6 separate regions of the Homo sapiens genome follow, and regions 2, 3, 4, 5 and 6 are each reported to be linked to region 1. The links are microRNA targets in miRTarBase. Many come from high-throughput screens and were not tested one by one. Region 1 holds a microRNA gene; each other region holds the end of a gene's coding sequence.

Region 1 (5,788 bases):
GAGGGTATTGTGGCAACCCCAACTTGAAGCTGGTTGGTCAGATATTCTTGATGCCCAGACTTATGACTTATACCTGAAGTGGAGCAGGAGGTGGTCGTGGGGACTGAGCCTTCAACTGGTGAGATCTGATGCTGTCTTTAGGTAGATAGTGCCAGAATTGAATTGGAGGAGACTCAGCTTCTATCCACTGCAGAATTGATTGTTTGCTTGGTGTGTGAGAGAAAAAAAAAACAAACACATATTTGGTCACAAAAGTCCCCTATGCATGTTATTGGTTGTTGAGTGAGAAAATAGAAAAAAACATTTTGAGTTCACGTGTGATTCACACAGCGTAAATGAGAGAATGAGTTGTTTTTCAACAAAGAAAGTTTGGGAATTTTGTTCTTATTAACAATATGTTATAAATCTGTTAATGAAACTTCCGTGTACTTTTCCCTGGTAATAGTTGTAACAGAAATAGAAGGCATAATAGTTTCTATTAGCACACACTAGGAACCAAGGAATGATTAATCTTCTCCAGGACTCCAATGTTGGTGATATTTTATTATGGATATTTTACAGATGAGGAGGTTGATGCTTTAAGAGGTCATTAATGTCTAATGGTCAAATCTAGAAGGAGTTTAAGGTGAATTAGACCTGGGTTTCCATGTAGAGTCCATGCTTGTCTAACTTGTCCTGTGTTTATAAAATGTTTTAAATGAATTTCAACTTTTACTTGACAATGTAGTTTTAATCATAAACATATCTACAATATTGATTATTGTTCTTTGATAACACTGAGGGTAATTTATCTCCTAACTAGTCCAAGATATTATACTTTGATTTTTTATGTTTTCTTGGACAGCTTTGTATTACTTCTTTTTATCTTTAGGGCACCTCACAATGTTGTCAGTGGACCTACCTATCTTCTTGAGACAGTTCTCTTATTCCTCCATTTCCAGAAAACTGACAATTTCTACGTGTCTGTGAGTTAAGAGATTAAAATATGATGTTACTTTTCCTTGTCTAAATGGCCCACCTAAGAATTATGTATAACCATTACTTTTTTTGTAAACGTCGCTTGTAGTTATTTTATTTGACTACTTGGAGAACTTTATTCTTTATTCTCTGGTTCTCATTTGTCTTGAAGGATGAAATTTCCAGAGAAGTAAACTCTAGCAAATGAAAGCATTTAAATGGGTTTTTGAAAATTGTTATTTTTTGTTTCTTGCATGTCATCATAGTACAAACAAAATTATTGAAAAACATCAGGTGTTTTGTTTTGCAAGAACTTGAAATTGTGTTTTCTAAATTAGTAAGAATAGAAACAAATTAACTACAAATCCCAAGTAATAGAGACAGTCACTGACTCTGGAAGATTGACATCTTAAAAGTTTCTGTGTCTATTGATATTATAATGTGGTTTGTGTCTTTAGTTCTGTTTATGTGATGAATCACAATGATTGATTTGCGTATGTTGAATCAGCCTTGCATCCTGGGGATGAAGACTATTTGATCGTGGTGCATAAGGTTTTTGGTGTGCTGCTGGATTCAGTTTGCCAGTATTTTGTTGAGGATTTTTGTATCTATGTTCATCAAGGACATTGGCTTTAAAGGTTTCTGTTTTTATGGCATCTCTGTCAGGTTTTGGTATCAAGATGATGCTGGCCTCATAGAATGAGTTAGAGAGGAGTTCACAGGAACATGGATGGAGGCAGAGGCCATTATCCTTAGCAAACTAATGCAGGAACACAAAACCAAAGATTGCATGTTCTCACTTGTAAGTGGGAAATAAATGATGAAAACACATGGACACATGGGAGGGAACAACACACATTGGAGCCTGTTGGAGAGTGAGTGGTGGGAGGAAGGAGAGGATCAGAAAGAGTAGCTAATGGATGCTGGGCTTAATACCTGGGTGACAGGATGATCTGTGCAACAAACCACCCTGGCACAAGTTTATCTATGTGACAAACATGCACATCCTGCACATGTGCCCCTGCTTAAAATAAAAATTGGAAATTAAAAAAAAATGTTTCTATGAAAAAACTTCTCTATGAAAAAAGTTTTCTATGAGAAACAACACTCTGGAGCTCTTCACATACATCATTTCCTGGAGATTTTTAATGCAGTATAGTTTTTAAATACTCTGAAATGTCCTGTGAAAAGTAAACCTGGTTAAACTGATTGAACCTGATATTTTCCAAAACAAATATATAGATACACACAGAGAGATACATGTATGCGCACATATGTGTACATAAATATGTATTTAAATTAAAATAAATGAAAAAGTAGTAGTCAAATATGCAGATCTATGTCATATATACAGATATGTATATGTGACTGCTACTTTTTTGTTTAATTCTCTTACCCCTATCTTTCTCTTTTCTATGTATGCAGGTATGTAACAGATATGCAATTGTACCTTGGAAGATGCTTTTCTCATATTTTGGCATCACCTATTGTTTAATCCTAAAGCCAAGGAAAGACTCAATATTTAACACTTGAATTTAAGATTATAAATTATATTTACCAAAAAGGCAAATATTATCCTAACACTGCATTTTAATTTCATGACTTCCAATATATCTGGAGATTAGGGAGGAAAAAGGTGTTAAAATTTTTATTTTAAAGTACATCACTTTACAGTTTTCTGACAACTATAGCTGACAAATTTGTTTTGTCTCAAAGATAATTTAGAGTGACAAGTTATTTCTTTTGGGGGCCACAGATGCAAGAAAAGATTTACTTCATCTGCTTATTACCCTAGAAATCTCTAAACAAAATTCTAGTTCAACTTGCATTTGTGATTTCTCTAGACTTTACTTTATTTACCAGTGCCCTATATGGACAAGATCATTTAATTAAAAAAAACCCTTAGAATTATAAAATTATAAAGTAAAATTGAAGGAAATGTATGGAGTATTTCATTGAACCTTATCATTTCTTTGTGTGCATGTGTTTGTGTGTGCGTGTGTGTCTGTCTGTCTGTGAGAGAAAGACAAAGCACAATGACTTAAATTGGCCATTTTGTCTCCCTATATTGGACAACTAGAGTCATGAATGCTGATTTTGCTGAGTCAGCATCCCTACTGGGAAACACAGAGGCCACTTGGTAGAGGCAAATATAAACGTTCTTGGGAAACACATTTTTGTTTAAATTTTCCTCATAAATTTATTAGACTAAAATCAACTGGTATAACAGAAATAAAAACACGGTGCAAATATAAACTTTTATTTTTATATTGATTCATTATTTGCTTTATAAATTTTTTATTTTATAAATAAAATGGCCTTATGTAATTGCAATGGCATACATGAATTTTTTTCCAGGTATTGTTTGACTTTTAATAAGCTGGTTAGTGACTTTCCACTAAGTAAATCTTCACGACTAAATAGTGTACTGCAAGGATGCAAATACAACCCCAGGCCTTTGTCAATAAGCTCCCTCTATGCTCCAGTGTAAAATAAAATTATCGTTTGCTTCTTCACATCTCATATCCCTTCTCCATTTTGTACTGTGTAGAATTTGTACTTTTGCTTTGCATTTAAGGAAATACCTGTCACTTATCTTTTTTTTTTCTTTTGTAGCTTTCATGCTAATAAAGAATTGGCTGTCCTCACCTAGCAAAATATTTTTATGCACAAACTACAATGACATGGTTGCCAACCTGGTTTAATGGTTTGAATTAAGAATGACCATTTATTTATGATAATAGAAATGCTCTCAATAAACCAGTTCAGTGCACTATATGCCATAAGTAGACTTACTAAATTGAGAGGACAGAGCCTGGTAAAAAGAAGTCAACTCCTCATCAAACAAAGAAGAAAAAAGAAAGATTGAAATAACAGACTAATTCATTTTTGATACAACGTTTTTAAAATCTTTTGAGGGAGAAATTGTCTGCTCTCTGCAAATGCAAACCAGCTAGTTTCTGCTTCCAAACAATTGAAGAGTATTGCTCACAAAATTATAAAGAAGGCTGTTTGTTTATGGAGCTCTCACACATCTCCTTTCAGTCTTTCTCTTGACTTTTCCCTCCCTACTCCATCAGAAACTATGTGATTCCTTATTCCTGACATCACAAGCTCAATGCCACAAAAGCCAGTCATTTAATAAAGGTGTGAAGACAACAGTGTGTGTGTGTGTGTGTGTGTGTGTGTGTGTGTGTGTGTGTGTGGCATGAATTTTACAGATGTTTGAGTGCACGTGTGCATGTGCTTTTGAAGCAGGGATTTATTTCTCAGGTACTACCAATTGTTGCTAGAACTAATTGCAGGCTGTAAAAATAACGTAGATACCTACATTTTTATTTGGAATTCCTTAATTTCTACATGTTGGTCTCTGTTATGAGCTGAATTATGTCCCCCTCAAAATTCATATGTTGTAGCACTAACCCGTAATAATTCAGAATATGTCTGTATTTGGATACAGGGCTGTTAAACAGGTAATTAAGGTAAAATTAGGTCATATAGGTGTGCCCTAATCTAATATGACTGGTGTTTTTATAAGAAGAGATTAGGGTAGACAACACAGAGATGAAGAGAGGGCCACGTGAGTACACCATCTGCAAACCAAGGTGAGAGGCCTCGGTAGAAATAAAAAATTCTGACATCTTGTTCTGGGACTTCTAACCTGCAGAACTACGAAAAATTAATTTCTATTGTTTCAGGCATCCAGTTTGTGGTATTTTGTTATGGCAGCCATAATAAACTAATGCAGTCTTCTTTTTCAAAATATTTCTCTGGTCAAACGAAATGTGTAAAGTTCAAATTTCACATTTTGCCAAAAGTCTGCTAAAGTTTACCTGTGCTTTATTTACTAATTGAATCATATTTTATCAAATAGGACTTATAATTTAGTGTTAATTGGCCAAAGCATGCAATTTCAACTCATTACCTTTTTTTTTCTTTTGAATCACATATTTTACTTTAAAATGACTGTAGATTCACATGTAGGTATAAGAAATAATACAGAGAGATGTGGGGTATAATCGACTGGGTTTCCTCCAATGATGACAACCAGGATATTGATATTGTTACATTCAATGTACAGAATATTTCCATCACATTTCCATTCATAATGTTCTTTGTAGCCACACTTACTTCTCTCTCACTTTCACTTCCTCCATAAACCCTGACAACCATTAATCTGTTCTCAATTTCTATAATTTTGTTTTTTCAAGAATGTTATGGGCGGGACATGGTGGCTCATGCCTGTACTCCCAGCACTTTGGGAGGCTGAGGTGGGCGGATCATGAGGTCAAGAGATTGAGACCATCTTGGCTAACACGATGAAACCCTGTCTCTACTAAAAATACGAACATTAGCTAGACGTGTTGGCGGGTGCCTGTAATCCCAGCTGCTTGGGAGGCTGTGGCAGGAGAATCTCTTGCACCCAGGAGGCGGAGGTTGCAGTGAGCCAAGATAGCTCCACTGCACTCCAGCCTGGCGACAGAGTGAGGCTCTGTCTCAAAAAAAAAAAAAAAAAAATAGTGATATAATAGGAATCACGCAACGTGTAACCATAACTTGTTGGGATTGGCTTCTTTACATTTCAGCATAACTTTGTAGCAATTTCGTTACATTTTTATGTATATCAAAAGTTTCTTCCTTTATACCTTTGAGTATCATTTGATGATATGGATGCATCATAATTTGTTTAACCGTTCAGCTATTGAAGGACAACTAGGTCATATTCAATTTTGAGTTATTACAAATTGAGCTTCTATAAACATTCATATATAGGTTTTTGTGTGAATATGTCTTAATTTCTCACAATAAACGCTCAGGGATGCAATTTATG
Region 2 (5,788 bases), not on the chromosome of region 1:
TCAAAATGAAAGGCATGGAATTTTAATTCTGTTACTGTGTGAAATCTTCTTTTTAAAAGAATGTTTTTCCTACATATTCTGCTTGTGTAACTATGTTAAATCTATTAGGACTTAGGCCTCCTGAAAGTTAACATTTTTTCCAGCAATACTGCTTCAGGAATTAAAATTGCAGTTGTTACATATGCATATATGTTTGGTCTGTTTTTATTTTTAGGAAAATATGTTACTAAACCTCAAGAATTGTCAGCTTTAGGATTGTGAGGATTCGTGGTGGGTTTCTAAATTAATAATATGACTTTGTTTCCTGCAGGAAACTTTACCCTCCCAGAGGTAGCTGAGTGCTTTGATGAAATAACCTATGTTGAACTTCAGAAGGAAGAAGCCCAAAAACTCTTGGAGCAATATAAGGAAGAAAGCAAAAAGGCTCTTCCACCAGAAAAGAAACAGAACACTGGCTCAAAGAAAAGCAATAAAAATAAGAGTGGCAAGAACCAGTTTAACAGAGGTGGTGGCCATAGAGGACGTGGAGGATTCAATATGCGTGGTGGAAATTTCAGAGGAGGAGGCAAGTTAATTTTGAGTGTTCTGTATTTAGTTCAGGATCGAAACAAGTGATAATTTTATAGTTTGGATGTAGCTGAAGTTTCTTCCTCATTAATGGTATACTGTCACAGTAACTAAAGTATTCATGTGATTTGATATTAAATACACCTAGGTTATGTTAATGGTTAGAATTAAACATTTCTTTTGTCTTTAAACAATTATTTTTGGAGAAAAAGGAACAATCTAGAGGAATCCTAAGTCTTCTGTATAAGTAGGGTACAATATACAATGAAACTAAAACAGCTCTTGTCTTTTAGCCCCTGGGAATCGTGGCGGATATAATAGGAGGGGCAACATGCCACAGAGAGGTGGTGGCGGTGGAGGAAGTGGTGGAATCGGCTATCCATACCCTCGTGCCCCTGTTTTTCCTGGCCGTGGTAGTTACTCAAACAGAGGGAACTACAACAGAGGTGGAATGCCCAACAGAGGGAACTACAACCAGGTAATGATTCAAGATCCCTGGAAGCATGATTGATAACTGTAGCTTAGTCTGGAAAGGTGTGAGCTTTATGTTGGGGTGTCTTAGTAATCCGTAAGGAACATGATAGGCATTGACATAAGGAAAATTGAACTAGTAATGGTGAAATGAGTCTACTTACTTTTGAGTTTTTTCAGGTGTACTAAACAAGTCAGATGCATTTCTCATAATGAATAAAAAATTAAAACATAAGAAACCAGCAGAGGGTATCCAGAATTTGTGTATTGCTTGCTACCTAAGATTAGGGGCTAGCAACCTGTCCATTTCTGCTCCTCTCTCTCACCCCCACAAACCTAACAAGCAATTGGGCTCAGAGCTCTTAGAGAGTATTTCCTTTTTGTAGAACTTCAGAGGACGAGGAAACAATCGTGGCTACAAAAATCAATCTCAGGGCTACAACCAGTGGCAGCAGGGTGTAAGTAATTTCTTATGTGCTTTATGTACATTAATTGTATTTTGAGTTCCTAAGATTTATCAGTCTTGAAAAAGATCTTGTTCAGGGATTGAAGTGTTTATAAGTGTTAATAGGGTAAAGTGTGAATCGTCTTGCAGTAGTAGCCATAATCTACCTTTTGAAGGCAAAATAGGTTGAAGATTGCTATAAGTTAAATTTTTTTAATAAAGTAATATTATTTAATATATACAGTTCTTTTACTGCTAGCTTTAATTGTGTAAACTAACAAAGTCATGATGTTTCGTTTTGTAATGTGTATTGATAATTATGGGATATTAAAACTAAATCTGGTTTGGTAGAAATCAGAGGTATGACAGGTATAAATTTGTTTCCAGCAAATTACTCTGAATTAGATTCATTGTCATTTCCTAAAAACAGTTTGAGTGGCTTATTGATGTTTTTTCTTTAAAAACAAAATTTTCTCTTACAGCAATTCTGGGGTCAGAAGCCATGGAGTCAGCATTATCACCAAGGATATTATTGAATACCCAAATAAAACGAACTGATACATATTTCTCCAAAACCTTCACAAGAAGTCGACTGTTTTCTTTAGTAGGCTAACTTTTTAAACATTCCACAAGAGGAAGTGCCTGCGGGTTCCTTTTTTAGAAGCTTTGTGGGTTGATTTTTTTTCTTTTCTTTTTTGTACATTTTTAATTGCAGTTTAAAAGTGAATCGTAAGAGAACCTCAGCATTGTGCACGATAAGAGAATGTGTCAGTATTTCAGGGTTCTACATTTTATCTGTAAAATGTGACTTTTTTTTTTTTTTATCACAACAGAAGTAAAATGTTGCTTTGTACCTGGTGTCTTTTATTAAGAATTTACTCCCCCCATTTCTCACAGAGAATAACAGTCGGGAGTCATTGTCACAATATAATAGAAATGTTAGCAACCAGATTCATGTAAGGACTAAGTGGTCCTCATGAATTGCATTAAGACTCTGTACTGCTCATATTACACTCCATCCTCTCTGTAGTTTGCTGGGTAGTGGAGGGGGTAAGCTAAATCATAGTTTCTGACAATAACTGGGAAGGTTTTTTCTTAAAATAACAATGGAATTGGTATAATTGGGATTGAAAACTAAAACTTGGAACTAAGATAGAGAAGATGGAGTGTATGTAGAAGGGCTGTTAAAAATGTAAAACTTGGTTGCATTATTTGTGGAGGCTCAAACTTGTGAAGGTTAATACCATAATTTTTCCATTTGTTCTGCATTTTGATTCTGAAAAGAAAGCTGGCTTTGCCCATTTCTTATTAAAAAAACTTGTTGTAAATCCAGTTGTCTAATGGGATCTATATGAAGTTAGCCATGTCTGTATGCCCTTCTCCCACAAAATACTGTATAACTAGTGTGCTTGTAGTAGTTAACTCCACCATCTTTGTAAGCTAATGAAATTGTGAGTCACCCATTTATATCTTAATTTTTAATCATGTCAGTTCTTGAATGGGTATCTCCTTAGCCTGCTGATTTCTTTTTCTTTCTAAAGAAAGTGGGTGGAGAAATTAATTTAGACGTTTGTTTGCAATAAAAAGAATTCATTTTACTCTTGTTTTGGGATTCTCGCCATCAAGGTTCAAAATCCCTTTATATAACTCCCAAGAGGAGAAATTTATTAAGTGTGTGCTTTCTGGACAGCTTATTCTTTACTCTGCATAGAACATTTAGGTTTTAAAAACTTAAATGTATACTGACAATTGATACATAATTATGAAGTAAAGTTGAATTCTTCCCTTCCCCTCCCCCCCAGACAACTTTTAACATATTTAATGAGGGGAAAAGGTACTGGCTGGGAGAAGTTAACACTGAGTTTATCATCTTTACAGAATGCTAATGCTGTCCTCAACTGATTATTTTATATACATATATATGATACATGAAACTCTGGGATCAGATGCTTTTAGAAGCCATCATGCAAGCCAGTCATTGATGTCACTGCTACACAACACTGCTAACTTGACTGTAGCTATGTAATAACATTAGATCCCCTAATTGTAATTATATTGGGTTTGCACAGAACACTTTAATCTTCCCCTCACCAATGTGAAGTGAGGAATCAGGAGTCAAACTGTAGAACTAAAATTTGACTTCAGTCTAGCGTTTCCTTGGTGTTTTTAGGTTGCTTTGGTAAGTTTAGGTTTGCTATATTTCTGATTGCTTAGAATTTTGTTTTAGCCCTTTAAAATCAGATCATAAATATGAATTCATACTTCTAAGGAATTTTCTTGCTATAAGCTGGAGTTTAGGTGATGTATAGGTTCAGTTGAGACATTTTTGGAACAGGCAAATCCTTAGTTAACATAAGATATTTAACAGTTGAAGATAGTGTCATGGATTTTTATCTTTTTTAGCAAGTAATGCTAAGAACCACTGGCCTGAGCTACTACTCTTCAGTATACATTATTAGGATTGCATAGACTTACTAGAGGAACAGTTTCAGGTTTTGATGCTAATCAGTGTTGTGTCCTAAAGTTGTCCTTTGTGCCTTTAAAAAGTTTTGGATATATCTTCTAGTTTAAAATTGCTTATTAAGGAATTCATTTTATAATTGCAGTGGGAAAGTAATGGTCAAGTAACACTAGGTAGACTATCATGCCTGTTTAGCCCAGAGAATTTGGGGGGAGAGAGAATAGATAAAAATGGCACCCAGAAAAATGTTAAAATCTTTAGTCAAGACTAGAATTAATACAATTGTCTACACTTGTATGGCAGAAATAACCTTATAAAGTGTTTAAGGAATTCAGAGAAGGGAATGTACCAAATAAGCAACAGGGAGAAAATTAGGTAAGAAGTAAGATACGAACGAGAAACCTGATTTATTGCTCATCCTTCCCTTGCCTCCCTAATGGCAAGCAAAACTCTGAACATCTGAAAAGGATGTAGTTCTGGACAAATCCTGACTACCCAGAGGAAACTCACTGTGAGATTGCTGTTGATTTGAAGGGTGCTTTCACTAAGGTTATATTTTAAAGTAGAATAACACATGCTGAGTGTAAACTGGCTTTGGATTGGTCAGCTGCAGTAGTACAAAAACAGCATAGAATTTGAGAAAACTAAAACTGCTATGAGATAGCTATGAGAAAACTAAAACTGCTATGAGATAGAAATGATGTAAAATTATGTGGAAAGTTTTCCCTCATATACTCACATACAGCCTTTGAAGGGCTCTGGCTCTGACCGGTTGATGGCCTTGAGCGAGATGAAATCATGAAATTGAGTCAAATCAATTTGACATTGAAATGACAAGAGGAAACTCTTAAATACATAAAAACAAGCTCTCATTTGCCTAGGATAGATACTGTCTTAAAAATAAAGACTGAACCTAGATGTTCTGAGCACTAGCAACAAGGTATTTTAACAAGTTTAAAGGAATTCTCTGAAAAAGTTATAAAATTATTCTAGGAAACATAACCATAATAGTGTTTTAAGGGACTTTCACCTGGGGATTTTATATTCATGAACAGAGTGTATTCTGTATTTAAAATGTCTCATTTGTGGGAATTGGATGACATGTTTTTTGATAAATTTATTCACAATATAAATTGACTTTTTATTCTAGGACCATGTGAATAATGGGTTCCATTGCACAAATACAAATATTTTAATAGCTTCTTAGGCAGTGGTGTAGACATCTTGGATATAAATAATTGTAGATCTTGTATATTTGATTTTTAAAAAACTAGAATAAACAGAGAGGCATAAACATATCTTAGAGTCCAAGTGGTAGTGTTTAGCATTGGATATAATAAATGGATGTTTTACAAAGTGTTTCCATAATTCTCTTCCTATACATAAATGTCTTGTTTTCAAAAGTGGATGGAACTTGGCTGGGTGTGGTGGCTCACGCCTGTAATCCTAGCACTTTGGGAGGCCAAGGCGGGAGGATCACTTGAGCTCAGGAGTTTGAGACCATCCTGGGCAACATAGTGAGACCTGGTCTCTTGAAAAAAAAAAAGTGGATGGAACTTGTAGCAGAGAATTTTATCTACTTCTCAACCTGCTTCAGAATACCCATTTGAGATGTTCCCCTGGAAAGATGAACACAATACTGCATCTGAAGCCATTTCTTCCCACCTAACATTCTTAAAATGATTAGAGTCTAAACTTTGTCATTCATTCCTAATTCTGGAGCTCTGAGGTTGAGGTGTTCAGAGTTTGGTGAATAATTGGGTTTAAGTTTTAACATTTTAGTAATAATAAAAGCAAACACATACATGTTAAGGCCTGACAATAGGTTGCAATACCCATGCATT
Region 3 (3,000 bases), not on the chromosome of region 1:
AAACTGGTATTTTGAAGGATTTTTTAAAATCCCCCCCGCTGGTGCATTTTAGGTCTAGGCACAGACTATAACCTCAAGCGTATACGCAAAAATAATTTAGGGTTAGCAGAAAATAAGTGGTAGTGTGGTTTTTCAACATGGACTTTAGACTTTTTTTTTTCTTTTCCTATGTAAACTGTCCCTCATCCTTCACCATCCCACCATAGAAAGTTAACTTTCTCCCAAGTAGCCAATTTTCACTTGGTGAGAGTTGAGCTAAGATTTGAAAGATGGTGATTAAAAAAAAAAAATCAAACTGTTAAATAGGAATTTGGAGAGACAGGCTTTTGTCATTTTCCAATGCACTTGGGAGGCACAAGATTTCGATTGTAAAAGGGAAAACCACCGGAAAGCATAGTGATAAAGTTCTATTTTCAGAACAAAGAGGTGAGTTTATCCTCATGCTGCAATTTCTACTCTGAAATAATTTCTATGCCTCAGTGAACATTGAGAGGATATTATCAGTAGATAAGGGCATCAACATTTGGTTGTGAACACACACTTTTGCTTAATTTGTCTATTTAAATTAGAAAGGGAGGGGAAAATAATACTAAAAAAATCCAAATAAGTCTGGAATCAATATTGAACTCGCCCCAGATCAAAAAGATATCTAGCAATCTGTCTACATAGGTGAATACACTACAGCTTTGCCTTTTACCTTGCAAATGGCAACACAAAGTTGATATGAATTACACGGAACAGCAAAAACCCAGTGGCACACTGACACGAACAAGGACTGCCATCCTCTTTTAAAACAAAGCCAGTCAGAAAACTGTGACTACAAGTTGGGATTACTTCCCTATTTTGTGCTGATGGAATTTTTCCTTCCCACTTTATTCCAATGTCATGATTATCCAAACTGCTTTTTTTTAAAGCAAGTGAGAAAAATAACAAATTGGATCTAATGACTCTGTGCATTAGTAGAGTGTGAGCTGGGAGATGTGTGAGGCCGCGGGTGCAGAGTGAGGTGGCTGGTGCCCCCGCCCGTGTGGCTGCACCCTCTGTCTACACTGCGAGGCCCTGTTAGTCCCCTGGATGGTGCAGGGCATCATAGGACTGCACCATTTAATTTAAAGTCAGCAGGTTTTAAGGCTTTGTGCTGACAATAATTGAGTTCATACATTCCTGTCCATCAGCAGAATTTATAAATGACGTTAAATTACAGCGATCGGGTCAGCTAGTCAGTCACATGGGTCAAGACCTGTATTCTCCAAAGTCAAATGTAATTCTTATTAAAGTTGAATTAAAAAATGGCATTTATGTTCTATATGTTCTAAATACCAGATTTGTTACTGTGTCATTTTAGGAGGTGTATATCAAATTACCTAAGGGGAAGGAAGGGTCTGGAAAACAGTTTTAGGATGAACAATGAATTCTTACTGCATCTGGACACAAAAACCCACCTAAGAAAAAAAGTGTGAATGCCATACGAGTTTTTTCAATGCAAGTAGGGAACACTGTACATCATTGAAAAACAGGGAAAAATAAAAGGGAAAAAAGAGGAGAACCATGGAAGAAAGCATAAAATAGCAGCTAGCTTTCTTATGTGTGCTGGAATTGTGTCTTTTGGGTTAACCCCAAATTTTCCTATGCTATACACTCTTCTCACATTTTGGTCAATACTAGCTTCTGAATTGGAAGAGGCATTATCAATTGCTTTAAAATGTTATACCTAAAATGAAGAAACACTGAGTTAGACTGTCACCACTTTGCATACCCATCAGGATAGTGTGGAATTGCTTGTGAAAATATATGTGTTCCTCTTAGGAGATGACGATCAAGTCAGCTAATGGCTGTCAACAAACTTCTAGTGTAGGCAAGAATTTTATGGCCAAGTTGGGCTTTCCTTTATTCCTTACTGGAAGGAAGTATTCAGAAAATAGTATTTTAGGGGAAAAAATTGTTAAGTAAACAGAATCCTTTTAAGCATATAAACAAAGTTGAGCAGCGTAAATTGGAAACTTAGTGCCTTTTAGTATCTGAAGCAAAAATGATAACAAGTTATAGGATTTTTCTTTATGAAGAATGATGTAAGCTCACTTATGAAGAAGAACCTATTTTCAAGTTTAGAGAGGTGGCTACAAGACCAGGTATGAATTTCTAGTCTCATCTTGAGAGAGCTGGTTTTGTGCAAAATTGCTTTGCCTCCAGAAGAAACTGGTACGACTTTCAGAGTTTGCCTCTTTTCTTAGACAAGGCTTGAGAGTGATTATTTTTCTTTTTTAATTTGGCCTTTTGGGGTACTTTGGAAAAGTGAGCTGCTCATCTGTCATTGGAATTATTTTTAAACATGTAAGGAAAAGCTACTGATTGAGTTCAAACCAAACAAAATACTTAAATGTATGAAGTGGTTTCATTAAATTTTCAGACCTTCTTAGCAGTAGAAACAAGAGACACATCACTGTCTGTAGAGTTGTGCTGTGTCATGGGTTTTCCTCAGCCAACCGCCATTTGCAATAAGTCATCAATCAAGTGGATGCATCGTTAACAAATTCCCTTCATTGCTAATAGAGACTTTACACACGCCAACATTCTTTTTCCCTGAAAATTAACCCTATTTTAAGTGTCCAAATGTTAAGGGCCTTGGGCAAAAGCAAACTAAAGGCAGAAAGAAAACAACCATCCCCTTGCAATGGAAAACAAAAGAAAATGAGAGAAACGTGATGAGGAGGAATTACCAGCTGATTTCATAACATATCCATGCCTCCCATACACATATATATGAAATCAAAATCTAGACACATATAACTTGGACATCCAAAGGGGACTGCTACTCTTCATACATTCAAAAAGAGTTGTTGAAATTTCTACTCATGAAGCAGCTCTTGTAGGCAGTTCGGGGATTTGAAAATCTCAGGGACTTCACTATCCAGCTTGCAGATGACCTTGTATATGGCCTTCTTCCAGGAAGGATCAACATCTTTGCCTGCGATAATGGCATTGAAAAACTCCCGTAATGTG
Region 4 (5,788 bases), not on the chromosome of region 1:
CATAGTTTGTTGCACTGTTGCTTATACTGTGCAAGAATTAATCTCTACCCCTTTCTTTCCTAGTACCATCAAACAGGCATGATTAAGGACAATTTCTCACTTACTATGGCAAAAAATATTATATACAAGCTTTCTTAACACAAACCAAAGTCACATACCAAGTAGTATATGACGTTCAGTGATATTCACTGACTGAAATTTTATGCACACTGAGTTCCAGCATACTCTGATCCACCTGTAAACTTTCATCATCAACAGCAGATTTGTATATGTCACAAAACTCTCCTTATCAAGACATAAAATATTGCCATATCATTCATGCTTTCAAAACAATGTTCATATAAGCTCTCGCATTTGAAACCAGATGGTAAGACCTGAATGCTACAAGAGTGAACATAACTTAAATGCTAACTACACGTTCAAGTACAGACATAAGAATGCTAGTGGTACAAACACTGTACTCCAAATGATGTTGTTAATCACCTACCAGCCTAAGACTAGTATCTACTTGATGGAACTTGAAAAAGCCATAAAGTCCAACTTGTTTAAAATGTTCAGACTTAGACTTACACTTCAAGATCTAGTATACATTTATTAATAAGCCCTAACCTCGTACCATAAAAAAATGGGCATGTGCTGTATTTGGGACATGCGGACACACCCACACCCACCCACAATCTCTCCCCTCCTCATGTTTACTAGACTGAAAAGCCACCCTGTATCCTATCATTAAAAAACAAAACAAAACAAAACAAAACAGTGCTTTTAGTCAAGCAGCACAACACAAGGACAGATCATCTGTGATTAACAGAAGCGAACGCCTTAAAATGATGGGAGAGAGACAAATTAACTAGGTACTAAGTCAGATTTCCAAGTGAAAAAGACATGAGCAAAACTTCTGGTCTTAATTTCTCAAATAAAACTAAAATAAATGAAATGGTAACAGAGTGACTTTCTCTAAATTTATTAGGGAGTTTGTTACAAATGTTTGGGCTTTACAGGCATGATTTCACGGATTCAAACAAGAAATTAACACTGATATTTAGCCTTCTCATGACATACACAGAAATAACATTGCTACAAACTGCAATGGAGAGAATCTTGTTTCAAATGGCTTAGTTTGGGGTTTTGTCTAAATGTATCATTATATAATGAAAGCACCAATTTGAGGGTTTCTCAAATAGTGATTTGAATTTTAGGACATAACAGTGTAACATGGTAACTTTATTCTTCATATATAAATAAGGCATAATCGGATGTGTATTAATGCTGAAAATACATTTTATCAAAAGCATAAATACAAGTATTTGGGTACACATTGAAAGTTAGGACTTAACCAATTTCTTCTTACAAAAAATGATAAGGACATATGGTATTTGTTGAATCTAAATCAGCACTTCTAATCATTTCTGGTATTAAGGCGATCTTATTTCCTTCTACTTTAAACCAACCACTGCCACCAACTGAATAAGGATTTCCCTAAACAGCCTCAATTTGAGAGACTAACCAGAGGACCTTCTCTATGCAAATTACATGCCAATACACCTTAAAAGAAAATAAGACAAAAGTGAATGAGTTTTTTCATTCCATATTGCTTTCTTTGGTTGCAGAGCAATCCAGTGCCCTTTCCAGATAATAAAATTGAAATGAAGATTTCAATTTAATATTTGGCAGACAGCAACAATGCAGGTTATTAAAAATATTAAAGGGGCAGAGGCATGCTTTGAATTACTCAGATTTTCAGAAAACATTTGACAAAACCCTTTCTCTATAAAAGTTATGGTCTAAATTTATGTTGTTTTATAAGGCAACTGTATATACATTTCTTCAAGGTCAATGAAGACACTTGTGTGATATTTCCTCAGAATTAAATGAGAAGGCATTCAGATTTAAGAACAGAATGTAACACAGGATTAGGCACATTTTATTCCAAATCATAACCATAAAGATTTAGAAAATCAAATACATCAAAGAACTTTAAATCTAAATTACTTTTTTAGAGACTGGGGTAAGTTTGCATAGTGAAATTATGAGCACCTTTTCAATTCTGTTCACTAAATTTCATCTCTCTCTTCATATAGTGGTATTTCAAAAGGATTCAGTTTTCATGATACAGGTGTAAGACTCCTTTCAAACGTTTTTAAAATACAACGTATAAAAAAATGTGGACTGAAGCCTTTAGATTGAACTTAAAGTTCTACTGAATGTCAAAACAAGCCTAAGTTGAATATAAGTAATTCATTGCCTCAAAATATAGTCTAGATTTTAAAAGAATGTTGATTCTGAGACATTACATGCAGCAGGGAAGAAAACTGCAAATGCCCAAAATAACATGATATCTATTTGGTGTTTCAACACTTCTTGGTGGTAATTCAAAAGGGGGAAACTTGGTGATTTCTGCTTTGTCAGGCAATATCTATGGTTCGTATCACAGATCTTAACTATGACTTAAGTAAGATGAAGTGTCCTCTTTCTATAGGGATCTAACTTGAGCCCTCACTGGAGTCAAATGTTTTGGCCATTCAATTTGCTAAATGTATGGGTAAACTCTCCAATGAATAGTCCAAATGTTACTGTGCACATATTCCGATATTCATTAGCACTGCAATTATGCTAATTTTGTGAATTTAAACAATGTATTCTTTTTGGCAAGAAGCACTAGATGTAGAACTATTCAAACACGCATGAATGATACCATGATACCACGAACATGCACGATACCATGAACTTGCATCACGGTGCCGGGCTACGTATGTGTAGCTCATGGATTACCATGGCATGAAAATGCTAGAAGTTATATGGATACAATGATAGTGGAAGTTCAAATGTGAGAAAAGTCAGGTATGTCAAGAACAATCCCTGGTTAGTTCACTGAAAAGCCCCACTCTCGTATCAGACAGCAAGACAGAACAACAGCCACTGACTTGGAAAGGCTGGGTGATCCATAACGACCAATCTTTCAAGGACCAATAAAATACCTGAGTACACAGTCAGCTATACAGTAAAATGACAGATATCACAGTCTTAAAATTTTCAGGAAAAGTAGAAAAGCTGTCAGACTTTTCAAGCTGTCGCCAGCCTTGGACTTCTGTTTCTCTAATTGTAGCACTACATACAGCCTAGAAGATAGTATTTCAGTACTGCAAACCAGCCATTCTGATGAGTTCACTATGAATGTATCTGCGATCACAAAGCTACTTCGTGGACACATTTTAATTTGGTAAGCAGTCGGGGGAGGTCAATGTAATCATCTTTAGGTGCGAACTAAAAAAATTACTACTGATCCTTAGAAGCATCCTTAAAACATTTAAAATATACCTCAAAAAAGCTGGACTTTCAACAACAACAATTATACAAATGTATACATACTGTATCTGTTAGAGACACACCAAGAATGAACAGGAATCTCAAATAATGCCTTCTTGAATAGTCTTGACAGAAAAATACTGCCCTTAGCAAACTCCAAATAAACAAAACGATGCCACAAATGGCACAGTGTGGAGTTGATGGGACTGGACAGGACAGCAAAAGATAGATGTTTGTGATGATACAACAATGATTTCCTACAGTAAGGATTGGTCTTTACTGACCAACTGAGATAGGGCTTAAAAGTCAAATACATGACATTCTGGAACAGGTTAAGTTTATTTAGAAAGTTCTGTTACCAAGTTGCTTGCAGTTTTTAGTTGCTGCTATGGCCAGAATGTTTCACATATGGTACATTAAACTACATGATAATTAAATATGAGAAAGGCAAATTCTATTTCACTCGTTACGTTTGACCAAAACACGGTAAACAGCATTAGCTTGCCTTTTGCTCTCCCATACCACCTGTGAACTCTTCATCAGCATCAGACCAAAGATCCTTATGTAAACTTGAAAACAGGAAGAACATTACCTTCAGAAACACAGAAATCTAAAAGCAAAACAGCTGTTGTGTATACAAGCAATTAAAATATGAAGGCTAAACCTTCTATAAACCTACAGAATGCCATTTCTTAGATAGAACTTCTAACAGCCCTTACAAAATAGGAGGTCACCATAAAGTTAGGCAACAAGTGTCACTGCTATATGTAAGGCGGACAGAAGATATCTTGTTTTGGAACTGAATATTCCTAACCTCATCCCTACAAGTATTTAAGGACACCTTTGATACTTGGCACTGCAGGAGAATTCAGTTTGGAAAGTAGAATAATTTAAAGCCTGAAATATGCCTAGTCTGAGGTCAGCTGGGAGGTTTTAACTGGACTTGAATAGAAGCCATGGTGAAACAGATCAAAGCCTGCATTACAGCAAATCTTGGCGATGAGTCACTCAACAGCTTTCAGCCACAAACCAAAGGCCGCAGAAAAAGTACTAAGATTTTCAAGAAGTTAAACGTAGAATTAAGATTGTTCTAATTCTGGTTGTAAACTGCTATTTTAAAAAACAAAACAAACAGAAAACATCAAAAACACAAAAAGATATTAAAACAGCAAGTCTTTTGTACATCACTGTAGCATAAGCTGCTTGAGGTTGTCATGCAGAATAGTATCCTTCACGTCACGGAAAACAAGGCGGATGTTCTCCGTGTTGATAGCAGTGGTGAAGTGGTGGTATAAGGGCTTCTGTTGCTGGTCCCGGCGTTTGTTCCGGAAACATTCCACCAGGAATTTTTGGACGTCTCTTAAGCAGTGGGGATCCCCTTCAAATTCTAGGAAATAGTCTTTGATGCTCACAATTTGCACCTTCTCCTCAAGCAAGTCTGTCTTGTTTAAGAACAGAATTATGGAGACATTGCTGAAAACCCGGTTATTGACGATTGTTTCAAAAATGTTCAGAGACTCTGTAAGGCGATTGGTCAGTCGATCTTCCATAAGCACCTGGTCAAATTCACTTGAGGAAACAAGGAAAAGTATTGATGTCACACTGTCGAAACATTCAAACCAACGTTTCCTTTCTGATCTCTGACCACCTACATCAACCATTTTGAAAGGAACATTTTTTATTTCAAAGTCGTATTCATGGATGCCTTTGGTGGGTCTTCTGGCAAGCAGAATATCTTGTTGTGATGGAATATAATCCTGGAAAAGAAAAAACTTGTTTTATACCTATTAATCCCGAAGTAATGCGAATTTTTAATGGACTACTAACTGGACTAGTGAATAGATATGCAAACAAAATGATCTTTTAAGTGACATTTTCAGATAGATTATGCTTATTATAAAATGCCAAGACTGGTCAGACATGGTGGGTCATGCCTATAATCCCAGCACTTTGGGAGGCTGAGGCAGGAGGATCGCTTGCGAAGCCAGGAGTTTGAGAATATCCTGGGCAATATAGCAAGACCCACTTGTGCTCCCCACAACAAAAGCCAAGATACATTAAAATGTTAGCAGGACGGGTTCAAAATTTACTACAAATGGCCAGAATCTACTTGTTTTCATCCCTGCAATACTACTCAAAATTTAAGCTGAAGTCTTATCAATTGTTCTTACCCACCCTCACTGCTATATATCCACCTGCAATCTTACTCCCCACTATCAGCCACTCTTGGTTCTAGCCAGAGTGATCTTCCTGTCTGCGTATCTACCTTCTCCACACTGCTCCTTGCTCCTCTATTAAAAGCAATGGGGGCTGGGCGCGATGGCTCACGCTTGTAATTCCAGCACTTTGGGAGGCCGAGACGGGCAGATCACGAGGTCAGGAGATTGAGACCATCCTGGCTAACACAGTGAAACCCCATCTCTACTAAAAATACAAAAAAATTAGCCAGGTGTGGTGGCGGGCGCCTGTAGTCCCAGCTACT
Region 5 (5,788 bases), not on the chromosome of region 1:
AAGTTACTGTGAATGTGTACTGGTAAGCAATAGTAGATAATACAAAATTTATGAAAACACAGATCTCATATCACAAAATATGGTCAAGCCATCTCTTCATATTAACTACTCTTTGAATTAAGTATATAATACATATAGGGATTGTGTGTGTTTTTTAATCCAGTAGAAGAGTAAAAAAAGAAAGTCTTTGAGGCTTTAAGTGAGTAAATCCTTCCTTAAGTACAATTCTAGTTCTCCTTTCATCTACTATCCCTTTAATGGTATGTACTTTGGAATGTGCTGTGAAACAGAAGTCATCTGTGCTGTTGAAGATACTAGACTCTGAATTAGGTTGGCTCTTAATTGCTTTACTAGATATTCCTTACCCAAATACCTCCTAATGTATTAATAATAAAGTGTTAGGAATGGAGTTATAAGTTTAACTTAAATGAAATCTTACTATTTTTAAATCACTGTATTATTTAGAAGGCATTAATATATTCTTGATTTTATTATAAAGCCTATTTGATTATGAAGTTCATTAATATATTTTTAATTTTTTAGCACTCTCAGAACTGTGGTGCAGGAACAGGTATTTTCCTTTTGATCAATGCATCGGTAATTATCATCATTCGAGGTCACCGCTTCTGCCTCTGGGGTTCCGTGTATTTGGATGCTCATGGAGAGGAAGACCGGGATCTTAGGTTAGATGTTCATGGATATATCCAGGTGTTTTATTGAAATTTGGTCAGTGAAAACCAATATGCTATTCCTGGCTTTGTAATTACAATTTTTTTAATATTAAGAAATTCTGACAGTCATTAATTTAGAGCTATTTCTAGTTTTTGAGCTATTGTCCCTATCAATACGTTGAGGAAACATGAAATACACCAAATTACCATGTGAGGTTTTTGCCACAAAGAATCCGTTGGCCAGGCCCAGTGGCTCACACCTGTAATCTCAGCACTTTGGGAGGCTGAAGCAGGATTGCTTGAGCCCAGGAGTTTGAGACCAGCCTGGACAACATAGTGAGACCTCATCTCTACAAAAAAATAAAAATAAATAAGCCAGGTGTGGTGGTCATACACCTGTGGTCCCAGCAACTCGGGAGGAGGTGGAAGGATCGCTTGAGCCCAGCAGGTGGCGGCTGCAGTGAGCTGTGATCGTGCCACTGCACACCAACCTGGGCAACAGAGAAAGACTGTCTCAAAAAAGAATCTAGTAAAAAAAGAAATGTGGTAGGTGTGGTGGCTCACGCCTGTAATCCCAGCACTTTGGGAGGCCGAGGTGGGTGGATCACTTGAGGTCAGGAGTTCGAGACCAGGCTGGCCAATATGGTGAAACCCCGTCTCTACTAAAAATACAAAAAATTAGCCGGGTGTGGTGGCGGGCCCCTATAGTCCCAGCTACTCTAGAGGCTGAGGCAGGAGAATGGCATGAACTCGGGAGGCGGAGCTTGCAGTGAGCCAAGATCGTGCCACTGCACTCCAGCCTGGGTGACAGAGTGGGACTCCGTCTCAAAAAAGAAATAAGTAAATAAAAAATAAAAAAATAAAAAAAGGAGGCAGGCATGGTGGTGAGCACCTGTAATCCCAGCTACTCGAGAGGCTGAGACAGGAGAATTGCTTGAACCCAGGAGGCGGAGGTTGCACTGCGAGAGACTGTCTCAGAAAAAAAAGAAGAAAGAAATGCATGTGAAATCTTCCGTGTATGATATTAATACTTTTTTTTTCTTTTTGTTCTAGGCGAGGCAAACCTCTCTACATTTGTAAGGAAAGATACAAAGTTCTTGAGCAACAGTGGATTTCTCATACTTTTGATCACATCAATAAAAGATGGGGTCCACATTACAATGGGCTGTGACTCTCCACCTCAGCATTGCATCGTATCATCATTTTCGCTACGAATTTATTTTTCAACAATAAGCTTTAACTTAATTTGGGGGATTAACACTTTTGCTGAGGGAGAAAAAGAAAACATACATTATGAAGCCTTTCCAAAATTAGGTGCTTGGTAATCACGTTAATGGTATAATTTTTTTTTTTTAATATCTGGAGAACATTAATAACAAGTTAAATTATTCTTTAGTGGTCATTTTTTAAGTGCACAATTAATAAGAAGCACAACTTGTTCACAAACTCATTCAGAAATGATTCTCCCAACAATGCGTATCAGCTATTCATTGATACTTAGAGTGGGTGTGATTTATTTGACATTTTACTGCTTCTTTCTGTCTGTGTGTTTTAATTTGCATCTGCCAAGCATAATGCATCTTTTTTCCTCTGCCATTCTTGTGTTGATTGGAGAATTTTTCTGTATGTAATTAGAAAAAAATGTAAAACATGATTTATGTGAAATACTGTATAGTAAAAGTTGGTCTAATAGTAGAACTTTAAAATTTTTTCTTATTGTGAGGAATCTGTTAAAAGTTTAAAGCTTTGCTGAAAACTGAATTCATTCTCAGGAATTTCATAAATCTTCTCCCCAGGTAAATAATTGAAATAGCTGTAAAATAAGTAGATAGCTGCTGTTAATATAATACAGTACATTTTGGGGGGCATATGTGTGGTTGGGGGGTCCTTAAAAATCAAAATTTGCCATTTCAGTTGGATGAATTACTAGAGGTAATAACAAATCTTACTATGAAATCAAGAGGTTTAAGAACATACACTGGGCAGATGTTGATTCCGTGCATGCCCACCTTTTATTACCAAACAAGGTTTTGTTTATATGATTGTATTAGAAATGCTCAGACTTCCCCAGAAATGAACCATAAATTTTGGAACTTCCTTTCAGCTCAAGAGGTTCAGCTATATTGTATTTGTGCAGTGTAATCACTACTATTTCTGCTCGGTTTCCTAAAAGGAAAAAAAAGGCGCAGTGGTGATGACCCTCATGAATGAGCCACGCTTCTGCATTCTTCTTAGAAACTGCTGTGAAAAACAATTTATGTTTGCAGGGTTTAAAAATCAGTAAAAATGGGAATGATTGAGCTAAAACCCACTCTATGAGAAGGAAGATTACTGAAAAGCATGTGACATATTGCTACAAAGATTTTTTTTCCTAAATGATTCAGTAATTGAATGATTATTTAATATATAGTGCTATCAAGCAATCCCTGGTACTTTGGACTTCCATGGCTTGTTATATAAAATTACATTTTTACATGTAAAAATAAACTAAACAAATCTAATGATAAAATATGTCAGATCCATGTTCTAAAAAATTTTTGTAATGACATGACATTACAAGAGTATAAAAATGGACATTAAATCATGGCCTTGCATTAAAATATGGAAAGCAGAGCAGTACATATTCAAATGTATTCAGAAAGTCAAAAGATTACCTATCGTTCTACAATAAAATACATGGAAATAGCTTGCTATTTTTATATACATTTCCAAAATATTAAGATAACTTTCTGTAAGAGTCAATGATTCTGTTCGACTAAATAGCTGTCCTTTCCAACACATTGCTACTTTTTTAAATACTGTATCATAAGTTCAGCCTGTCATACTTTTTGCATTGATCGTTATGAATACCAGACCATTTGTAAGTGTGGTTGAAGAGCAAAATGCTAATTGACATCTCTAGTAAATACTGTTACAGGATTCATGAACTTGAATAATTCTACAGTTTGAAACTCTGATGCTATATATACATGGTATAATGTATTCAGACTTTGATTACTACTTATTTAAAATGGAATGTTTTATGGTTGTGCATATGGATGTGAAGTGAAAATATTAGCCTTAACTTTAAAATTTGGGTGTTTGATAGTGTTTATTTTGATATTGGTGAATTAGTCACCAGTAAATTTTAAAAAAGCACTTGGTTGAAAATTGTACTTGAATACATACATGCATGCTGCTAAACTAGAACTTTAATTTTTCCCCATAACTTTTATAAGTCCCATTTATAAACCCACTTTTAAAAATAACAGGTCCAAGTTAGAGTGATGTGTGTATATTATTCAAAAAAATGTACTGGTGTGATATCTTGTATGAATGATCATTTAAATACAGTACATTACTGTAGAAGCTAAATTGATCTTTATAATTAAGCAGAAATTACAAAACTAGGAATAATCAACATTGTAAGATATGTTAATAAAAACCTGCTGTCATTTGGTTTGTGAAAGGTCCTTAAAATGTTTACTGCTTACATGTTTTTTTTTCCCCCAAAGATATTGACAGTAATATATGTGAGTGAACATGGCTGAAAAGATCAAAGCACAACATAATTAGTAGTTGCTTTAGGGTGGAGTAAGTGTAAAGGGTTTGCTTTGCTTTTTTTCTTTTATTTGCAGAGTGAGTTCTTGCTTCTTCAGTCCTTGTCTCATAATCAATGCACATTCTTTGCTAAGTGTGTGTGTTTGGTAGGGGGAGAAGGAAATGGGTATGTAGATCTGAGGAATTGTGATCTCTGTTCTTTTCTGAAAGTTCCCAGCCAGACTTCAGAAATGTTTAGTGCTTTATGAGAATGTTTATTTTGAGTGGTTTGCATTCTTGTTTGAATTGACAGTCCTCACCCCTACCTCTCCATCCTGAAGCTCACCAGCCATTTATCAGCTAGCAGTCCATTTCTCTTCAGACCTTTCTCTGTTTTATGTATTCCGATATTTACTGATTTCTGTGACTTAGAAAAAGATGCTGACTAAAAGCACTGAAGGCTTAGAGGAAACAGCAATATGGGAAGAGATGTGGTCTAAGACTCTCTGTATTATCTCCAGGATTCTAATTGCTGACTCTCAAATGGCTGTTGATGGCTTATATTTGAGATCATATTTGGGGTTGGGGGGGACACAAAGCATGGTTTTAACCACTAGAATCAAATCACCGAGAGAAGATGAATTCATTGGTGAGGATGCCTGATGATTGATGATTGTGGGAGAGCAGATGACTTATGACTGTGTCTCAGTCCCATTCACAGCACATAGTTCTTTCCTCTGCCTTATGATCTGGCTAGATGATATCAAGCACTGCTTAGTTCAACAGGGATGAGCTGGAGTGGGCAAAACAGCAACATGATCACTTCTCTATTTATGACACTTCAAGCTCCCTATTAATTAGGCATATCAGGTATGGAAGAGCTATGACCTGCCATCTTAGTGTACAGTACAAGTAGTGGAATGAATGTGACTTCAGCTGATGCAACACAGTGAAAACACACAATGGAACCTTGTGTAGAGCTGCCTTTGTGCAAGTTAAATTAATGTAAGATGTGACAGTACCAAAATCAGTGAGGTAGAGCCCAAGAGCAGACCAGAAGGAGTGGGGTCAAGAGCACAGATAAAAGCTTCAGGTTGAGGGGAAAAGATACAAGAGAAAAGGAAAGAAAGTCTAGAGCAAAATAAGAGGATTTGTGTCTGATTCCCTCTTCTCTTGGTGACAAAGGAGCAGGATCATGTACCGAGAGTGAACAGGCCTAGCATATCTGGGGGCTTGAGATAAGTGGCAAAAGCTTAGACATATGCTAGGAGAGAGAACAGGCCAGAAATAAGGGGAAGCACCACTGAAGTTATATTGACAGCCAAGTGGGGTTAGAAAACCTAAGTTTAATGGAGCCAGTTAGAAAGATTCTGTAACTTTGTGGAGCCCCTGAGTTTAGCAGCTTAGGACCTGAAGGATAGAAATTAGACTGCTAAATTAACTGGGGTTTGGAGACACGGATACAAAATGTAAAGGATGCAATATAAGTTAAGAGAATTAGGGGAGCTGGTTGAAATGAGTGTGGGGTTCATGTTGGATTTGTAGGGGCGTAGGATTGGAAGACACAATAAGATTTAGTAAGACAATGAACTCTTTCA
Region 6 (5,788 bases), not on the chromosome of region 1:
TATCAGAAGAAGACCTAAAACATATATTCAGAGCAGTCAGAGGTCATTGATAGGTTTCCTTCCTAAAAACCTGACTTGCAATGTTGAACTAAAAGAGGCCTTCCTAGGTTGCCTAGCTAAACCAGATTATGGATCCCTAATTTATTCTTGCCAGATTGAATGATGAGCTGGTCCTTACAGCAGACTTTGTGACCCCTGCAGCACTGCCTCCTGGTCCTCACAGCTATCCCTTTTTCTGTGCCTTTGCTGGGGAAAAACAGTAACCATCACATTTTGCACGCATCTGGCTTGCTTCCACTTGACACTCTTGGGTCACGTGCAGATGACTGTGCCAGTCAGTGGAAAGTCTATAGTGATGGCACCATGACTCTCTCTGCCTCTGGAACCCTTAACTGGGGGGGAAGGGGACAGTGGGAAAGAAAGTTTCAGGCGTTGATAGCAGCTCTCCTCCCTCTGCCCTGGTCATGTCTCCCTTTTCTGGCCTCTTTCAATCCTGTTTATGCCTTGCCCTTCCTAACCAGGCCTTTGCTGTGTTGCTTATCTTCTCACATTCCATAGTTGTGTGTCCAAGTAGAGGTCTGTTACGGCTTTTGCAGAATGGATCCTTGCTCAGGGAAAGTATTCACACCATCTGGCACAGAGGTCCCTTTCAACCTGAGGATGAAAGCCTGCATTATATTCTTAAGCAAAGCCTTCCCTGACCCCCAGTGCCCATGTAAGCTCACCACAGCACTTACCACCTAGAATTTCAATGGTGGTTACGTCTCTCTCCACTACGCTGTGAACAGCTTGAGGATAGGGAATTTGCCAACTCTGTTATGGTCCTTGCACCCAGAATAGGACGTTCTTGCCCAAACCCACCATTCTTGGGATCTCAAGTTCATAAGCGTCCTGTTGAAGGCCCTCATTCTTATAGTTAGCCCTGGGGAGTCCAGTTCTGTTAAGATGCTTTCATCAAAAACTTCACAGTTGCTCTTCTGTGCTCTACTCTGTAGTTGGGCCACACTGAGCAGATTCTTTGGTAGAATTTTCAACTTGAGACTAACACAAGTATTTCCTTTTCTGTTCAGTTCTCCAAATGACAAGAAGTCTTTTTGCTCAATTGAAGGGGAATGGAATGGTGTGATGTATGCAAAATATGCAACAGGGGTAAGATCCTCTATTTTGCCACTTGTTTTAGGCTACATTAGATTGTACTCTATCCCTTTTTCTGGCTTCCTTCATTAGTACTTCCTTCATAATGCATTTCCTTCTACAGTATATTAGAGCTGGAACTTTAGGACAGCTCCAGTGTATGTCATCTCTTCAGGGCAAGCTTTTTCTTTCCTTCCCCCACCTTCTCCCAGCAGTATAGGTAATTATAATCATTTTTACTTTTCTCTCTGCTCTCAAAACACTTGAGAATAATATATGTAAAACAATGCCTGGCACATAGTAAGAACCCAGTAAATGTTAGGTATGTGGCGTATGTTTATAAAATGAAGCACTAAACTGTGTGTTTCCATACACACACAGTTGAAGATTTTGTATAATAAAATTTACTGACTGCCTGGCACCAGAGATACCAAAATGAGTTAAGATAGACCTTTCCTTCAAAGAACTTGCACTCTGTACTACTGCCCACTCAGTGTTCTTAAACAGAGGAAAGATGTTATGAAATTAACAGGAGGAGCCAGTTAACTGCATTTTGGACCTAGAGAATTTGAAGTGTCAAAAGCACTACAATGCATCTAACATTAGGTTAGGGGTTTATGGGTCTAGTTCCCATCCACCTCTATTGTTTTCTAGGAAAATACAGTCTTTGTAGATACCAAGAAGTTGCCTATAATCAAGAAGAAAGTGAGGAAGTTGGAAGATCAGAACGAGTATGAATCCCGCAGGTAAGCCGACATTGTTAAGTGGAACTATTGCTGCAGTGCTTAAACTTTGCCTAGGCGTAGGCACAGGGCTGGGTTTGAGAGACAGTAGGGCAGAGCATAATAGTATAGACCAAGTTTGAATTCCTGGGTTCGTATGTCAGAACTACCACTTACTACCTTTGTGACCATGGATGGCTCAGTCAGCTAACTTCTCTTTACCTTCTTTCCTGAAATGAGAATAAAGGCCTTGAGAGGAAGCCACATCTTAACTAACTTTAAAGCCTCTGTAATTTACTTCTTGACCCTTATTCTCTCCATTCATACTATTTTCTCCATCATATTGTTAAATCCAAGGGAGTTTTTCTGAAATGGAACTTCTCAGTTCCTCTAACACTTACAGGTATATATTAAGGGACACTCAAGCCCTACAGAGGTAAACTGATTGACCCAGAGTTGCACAGTAAGTTAGACATAGAGCCAGAAGTAGAATCCCAGGTCTCAGCTTCCACTATTCTTTTTCTTCTGTTGACCTTATCATACTATCAGGCAGCCCTTATTTCCTTCTTTGACAACTAGCAGTGGAGTCTTCTGAGCCCATATGTCTGTTCCTTACTCCAGTGCCCTGGTGCCAGCGTAAGGAGATTTAGTCTGTGACCTACAGCACTTAAAGCCATTTGACTTGTATTATACTATATTCAGGATGGCTGCAGGCTTTCATTCTCAACATTGGCAGCTCCTCTTACCTCTTTGTTTTAGCCTTTGGAAGGATGTCACTTTCAACTTAAAAATCAGAGACATTGATGCAGCAACTGAAGCAAAGCACAGGCTTGAAGAAAGACAAAGAGCAGAAGCCCGAGAAAGGAAGGAGAAGGAAATTCAGTGGGAGACAAGGGTAAGCTTGCCTGCCCCACCCTCCTAAGTGCTGTTCCTCCTAATTTATTTCAGTGAATGTTGAAGAAGTGATGTGCCAAACACTGTTTATAAACAAGATGATCGCTGGTCCCTACTTGAAACTCATTTCAGTCTAATGGCGGGGTGGGGAGCAGATATGAAATAGTAAGTATATTACAGAAGTACAAAGCAAATATGTAACTAAATTCTTCCTCTTTGTCTTACAGTTATTTCATGAAGATGGAGAATGCTGGGTTTATGATGAACCATTACTGAAACGTCTTGGTGCTGCCAAGCATTAGGTTGGAAGATGCAAAGTTTATACCTGATGATCAGGGCAGTAGGCATAATTCAGCAACAAACAATCTTCCTTTGGGAGAAACCTGTTCATTCCAATCTTCTAATTACAGTGGTTCCTATCTCAGGGATACTGGACTTTCTGACGCAGATGAACAATTAAGGGGAAAAGCTTCCCTTTTCCCTCTGTGGCAGTTACGATTTTGACTTCAGTCCTGAGAAAAACTTCAGGTTTTGAAAATCAGATGATGTCTTCTCCTTTTCCAAACACCACACGTTGAAAGCATTTATAAATCCAAGTCTGAAACTCTGCGCTCTAGTACTGCTGTTAAGATACACAACTTGTTTCTTAGTTCATATAATCTCGGGATACACACACACACACACATATATATACACACACATACGTATACACACACATACATATATATAAATATACCTGATGCCAGATTTTTTTCATAAATATTCTGCCTACTGTAAATATGGGTTCCTCTGAGTTGTTTTAGAAAATTAGCGCAATGTATTAAAATCAAGTGTTAGGAAATTTCATGGTCTTACCTACAATAACTTTTATTTTGGAATTGAACTATTATTAAATTGTATCTAATCCTGGATTACAGTTTAATTAATTATTCTTAGTGCTTAAGGCTTCATAAAGTAATTTTTCCAACCTTTTTTTTAAAAATGTGCATCTTTTATTATCTTTTATGGTTAAACTTGGAAGCCAATTATTTGGCAACCTTGAATACAAGAGCTAGCTTTTCAAAGAAAGACACTTGAAATAATGGAGGATCCATTCTTTTCCTCTGTCAGATTGTATGTTCTGTCTTTAGCCCCTGCCAGGCAATTCCCCAGAATCTTCACTTAACTCATATTGCACATGTAGGGCTGCCTACCAACATTTTATCCAAAAATGTTTTATTGCCTTAGAGGGTTTGGGAAGAGTGTGTATTTATAGATCCCCACCCCACAGTGAACAAAAATAGATAGATAGATAGAATAAAATGAATGCCACAGCAGCAGATGGCTCATTCTGAAGGGAAATACAGAACTATATCTATCTATCTATCTATCATCTTTTTTATTTAAAAATACATTAAAAAAACAGGTATTAGTACCTAGCATTTAGTTAGTTATTCAATATACTGGTTACGTAAGGCCTTTCAAGAAGTAGATTCTCAGTCTGAGAGGACACAGGCCAGGGCTTCTCAAAGTGCTGCTGCAGGCTTTCTGGTCTCGCTTGGCCCATTCTGCTAATTTTCCTTTGCCAGCTCCTACAGTAACCCTGGGTTTATTAGTCTCAACAAAGGATAAAAAGTAAATCAAATGCTATGATGCCAGTGCAAAACTTCAATGGAAGCCCTAAGGCAGTAGTATAACTAACTCCATAAAATACAAACAAACACATTTTAAAATACACATTGCTTCAGGCCAACGTGACTGCAGTTTATTTATTTGACTATTTTATGGTAGGGGAGAAGGTTGAGTGTTGTTGTGAAAGCCCTGATATCAGTAATGGGGATGATACAATCTGCCAGCAGAGGAGAGGTTGGCAGGTAGGTCAGCTGCATCACTTCACAAGAAGAATTTGAATCCTCACTAGAAGGGGTACCATCCTCTTCCAGTTCATACTTCCCATATCCAACAACCTGAAAGAGGACAAAGACAAAAGTGAAAAATATGCTGACCAGATTTAGGGGTTTAAGAGTTCTGATGATAACCACCCAAACTCACTCAGTAAATGACAACCCTAGAATGGATGGAGTTAGTTAAACATACTCACATGAACGCTGAGCATTTTACTTCCTGGCCCTCTATGGGCCTTGAACCAGTTGACCAGGTCTGATTTTGAGAATGACTTCAGTGCTTCAATCTTACAAGGGAAGGGAAGATAGGAAAGAAATTCAAGAAGAAAGATAGCTCTTAAACCTAACCCCCAGGCAGATGTCCCTGGACCTGCTTAGCATCTGAAGACCTCATTTTATTCTTCCTATTCTCAGGTTACCCCTAACCTTCCAGACCAAAACGATGATGAAGCTCTCTGGCATGCCTTCACATTTTATACCAATCATCTACAATGGCAAGAGAGGTTAGCAGATGCTATAATTACAGCTAAATACCATACACTGAGCCCAACACCCACATCCCCTTAGTGTCACCTCCCAATTACATGGTAGCTGCATACCACGGCTTGAGGAAATCTACCTTGCTTCTATTAAGAAAACTAAAATGTGTTAAGATGAAGCCTCTTACTAAATAACCTCTTTACATCACAGAGCAATGATGTCCTATGGTAATTCACCATGTAGGGGCTATGTATTAACCAAAGTCACACTGGAGTACAAGATCCAGATCTTTTTCATAGGTTTTACTACTTTGGAATAGAAGTTGTCAAAACACATGCACTTGGAATAATGAACTCCGTAAAGACAAAGAGTCCTCAATTTTCTTTAAACGGCAAAACTCTTTTTCTCCACAAAATCTTGTAGACCTCAATATATAGCATAAAAATAGAGCTGCTCTGATTGAAATTGGTGGTGGTGTGGTAAGGATTAGCACCCAGCTCACGTGGCCACCTAAGGTGCTAGAGAGGCCAGTCTGAAAACTCAGGAAGTGAGCGAGTAATCAGGCCAGGACTAGTGTTTCGAGTTTCTCTTCCACACAATGCTGGTGTGCACAGACCTGTGATGCCTGTAGAATCAGGAACCTTGACCAGTTTGAGCTGTCTTACTCTGAAAACC

What was found. Region 1 holds the annotated microRNA hsa-miR-3924 (AUAUGUAUAUGUGACUGCUACU, at 2,312-2,333, shown strand). A microRNA usually pairs through its seed, bases 2 to 8, with sites in the 3' UTR of a target mRNA and lowers its output. Matches are read on the target gene's strand: a 7mer-m8 pairs with bases 2 to 8, a 7mer-A1 pairs with bases 2 to 7 and ends in A, and an 8mer does both.
Region 2: miRTarBase lists HNRNPU as a target of hsa-miR-3924. Seed matches in the 3' UTR shown: 7mer-m8 at 2,041-2,047, 8mer at 3,236-3,243, 7mer-m8 at 3,395-3,401, 8mer at 4,796-4,803 and 8mer at 5,323-5,330.
Region 3: miRTarBase lists PROX1 as a target of hsa-miR-3924. The part of its 3' UTR that is shown has no 7-base or 8-base seed match.
Region 4: miRTarBase lists GNA13 as a target of hsa-miR-3924. Seed matches in the 3' UTR shown: 7mer-A1 at 3,867-3,873.
Region 5: the mRNA of UBR3 is a reported target of hsa-miR-3924. Seed matches in the 3' UTR shown: 7mer-m8 at 3,832-3,838.
Region 6: miRTarBase lists OSBPL9 as a target of hsa-miR-3924. Seed matches in the 3' UTR shown: 7mer-m8 at 3,467-3,473.

What each region holds. Positions count from the first base shown.
Region 1 is chr10:57,301,034-57,306,821 of GRCh38, reverse strand. MIR3924 (microRNA 3924) reads left to right here and starts at 2,263; the gene lies at 2,263-2,343.
Region 2 is chr1:244,850,681-244,856,468 of GRCh38, reverse strand. It overlaps HNRNPU (heterogeneous nuclear ribonucleoprotein U), which reads left to right. Exons shown (of 14, transcript NM_031844.3): 10 at 1-12; 11 at 311-565; 12 at 861-1,045; 13 at 1,425-1,496; 14 at 1,966-5,788. The coding sequence ends at 2,019. SNORA100 (small nucleolar RNA, H/ACA box 100) reads left to right here and starts at 2,252; the gene lies at 2,252-2,382.
Region 3 is chr1:214,035,681-214,038,680 of GRCh38, reverse strand. PROX1 (prospero homeobox 1) reads right to left here. Exons shown (of 5, transcript NM_001270616.2): 5 at 1-3,000. The coding sequence ends at 2,847. Among named protein-coding and RNA genes, the nearest start is that of PROX1, 49 kb to the right of the region's middle.
Region 4 is chr17:65,009,767-65,015,554 of GRCh38, forward strand. GNA13 (G protein subunit alpha 13) reads right to left here. Exons shown (of 4, transcript NM_006572.6): 4 at 1-5,063. The coding sequence ends at 4,491. Among named protein-coding and RNA genes, the nearest start is that of GNA13, 44 kb to the right of the region's middle.
Region 5 is chr2:170,080,002-170,085,789 of GRCh38, forward strand. UBR3 (ubiquitin protein ligase E3 component n-recognin 3) reads left to right here. Exons shown (of 39, transcript NM_172070.4): 37 at 1-22; 38 at 544-683; 39 at 1,725-4,130. The coding sequence ends at 1,842. Among named protein-coding and RNA genes, the nearest start is that of MYO3B, 95 kb to the right of the region's middle.
Region 6 is chr1:51,784,738-51,790,525 of GRCh38, forward strand. OSBPL9 (oxysterol binding protein like 9) reads left to right here. Exons shown (of 24, transcript NM_024586.6): 21 at 1,071-1,149; 22 at 1,789-1,880; 23 at 2,616-2,751; 24 at 2,978-4,482. The coding sequence ends at 3,052. NRDC (nardilysin convertase) reads right to left here. Exons shown (of 31, transcript NM_001101662.2): 30 at 4,831-4,920; 31 at 4,473-4,696. The coding sequence ends at 4,499. Among named protein-coding and RNA genes, the nearest start is that of MIR761, 49 kb to the right of the region's middle. RefSeq lists silencers at 480-774, 2,206-2,406, 3,886-4,086.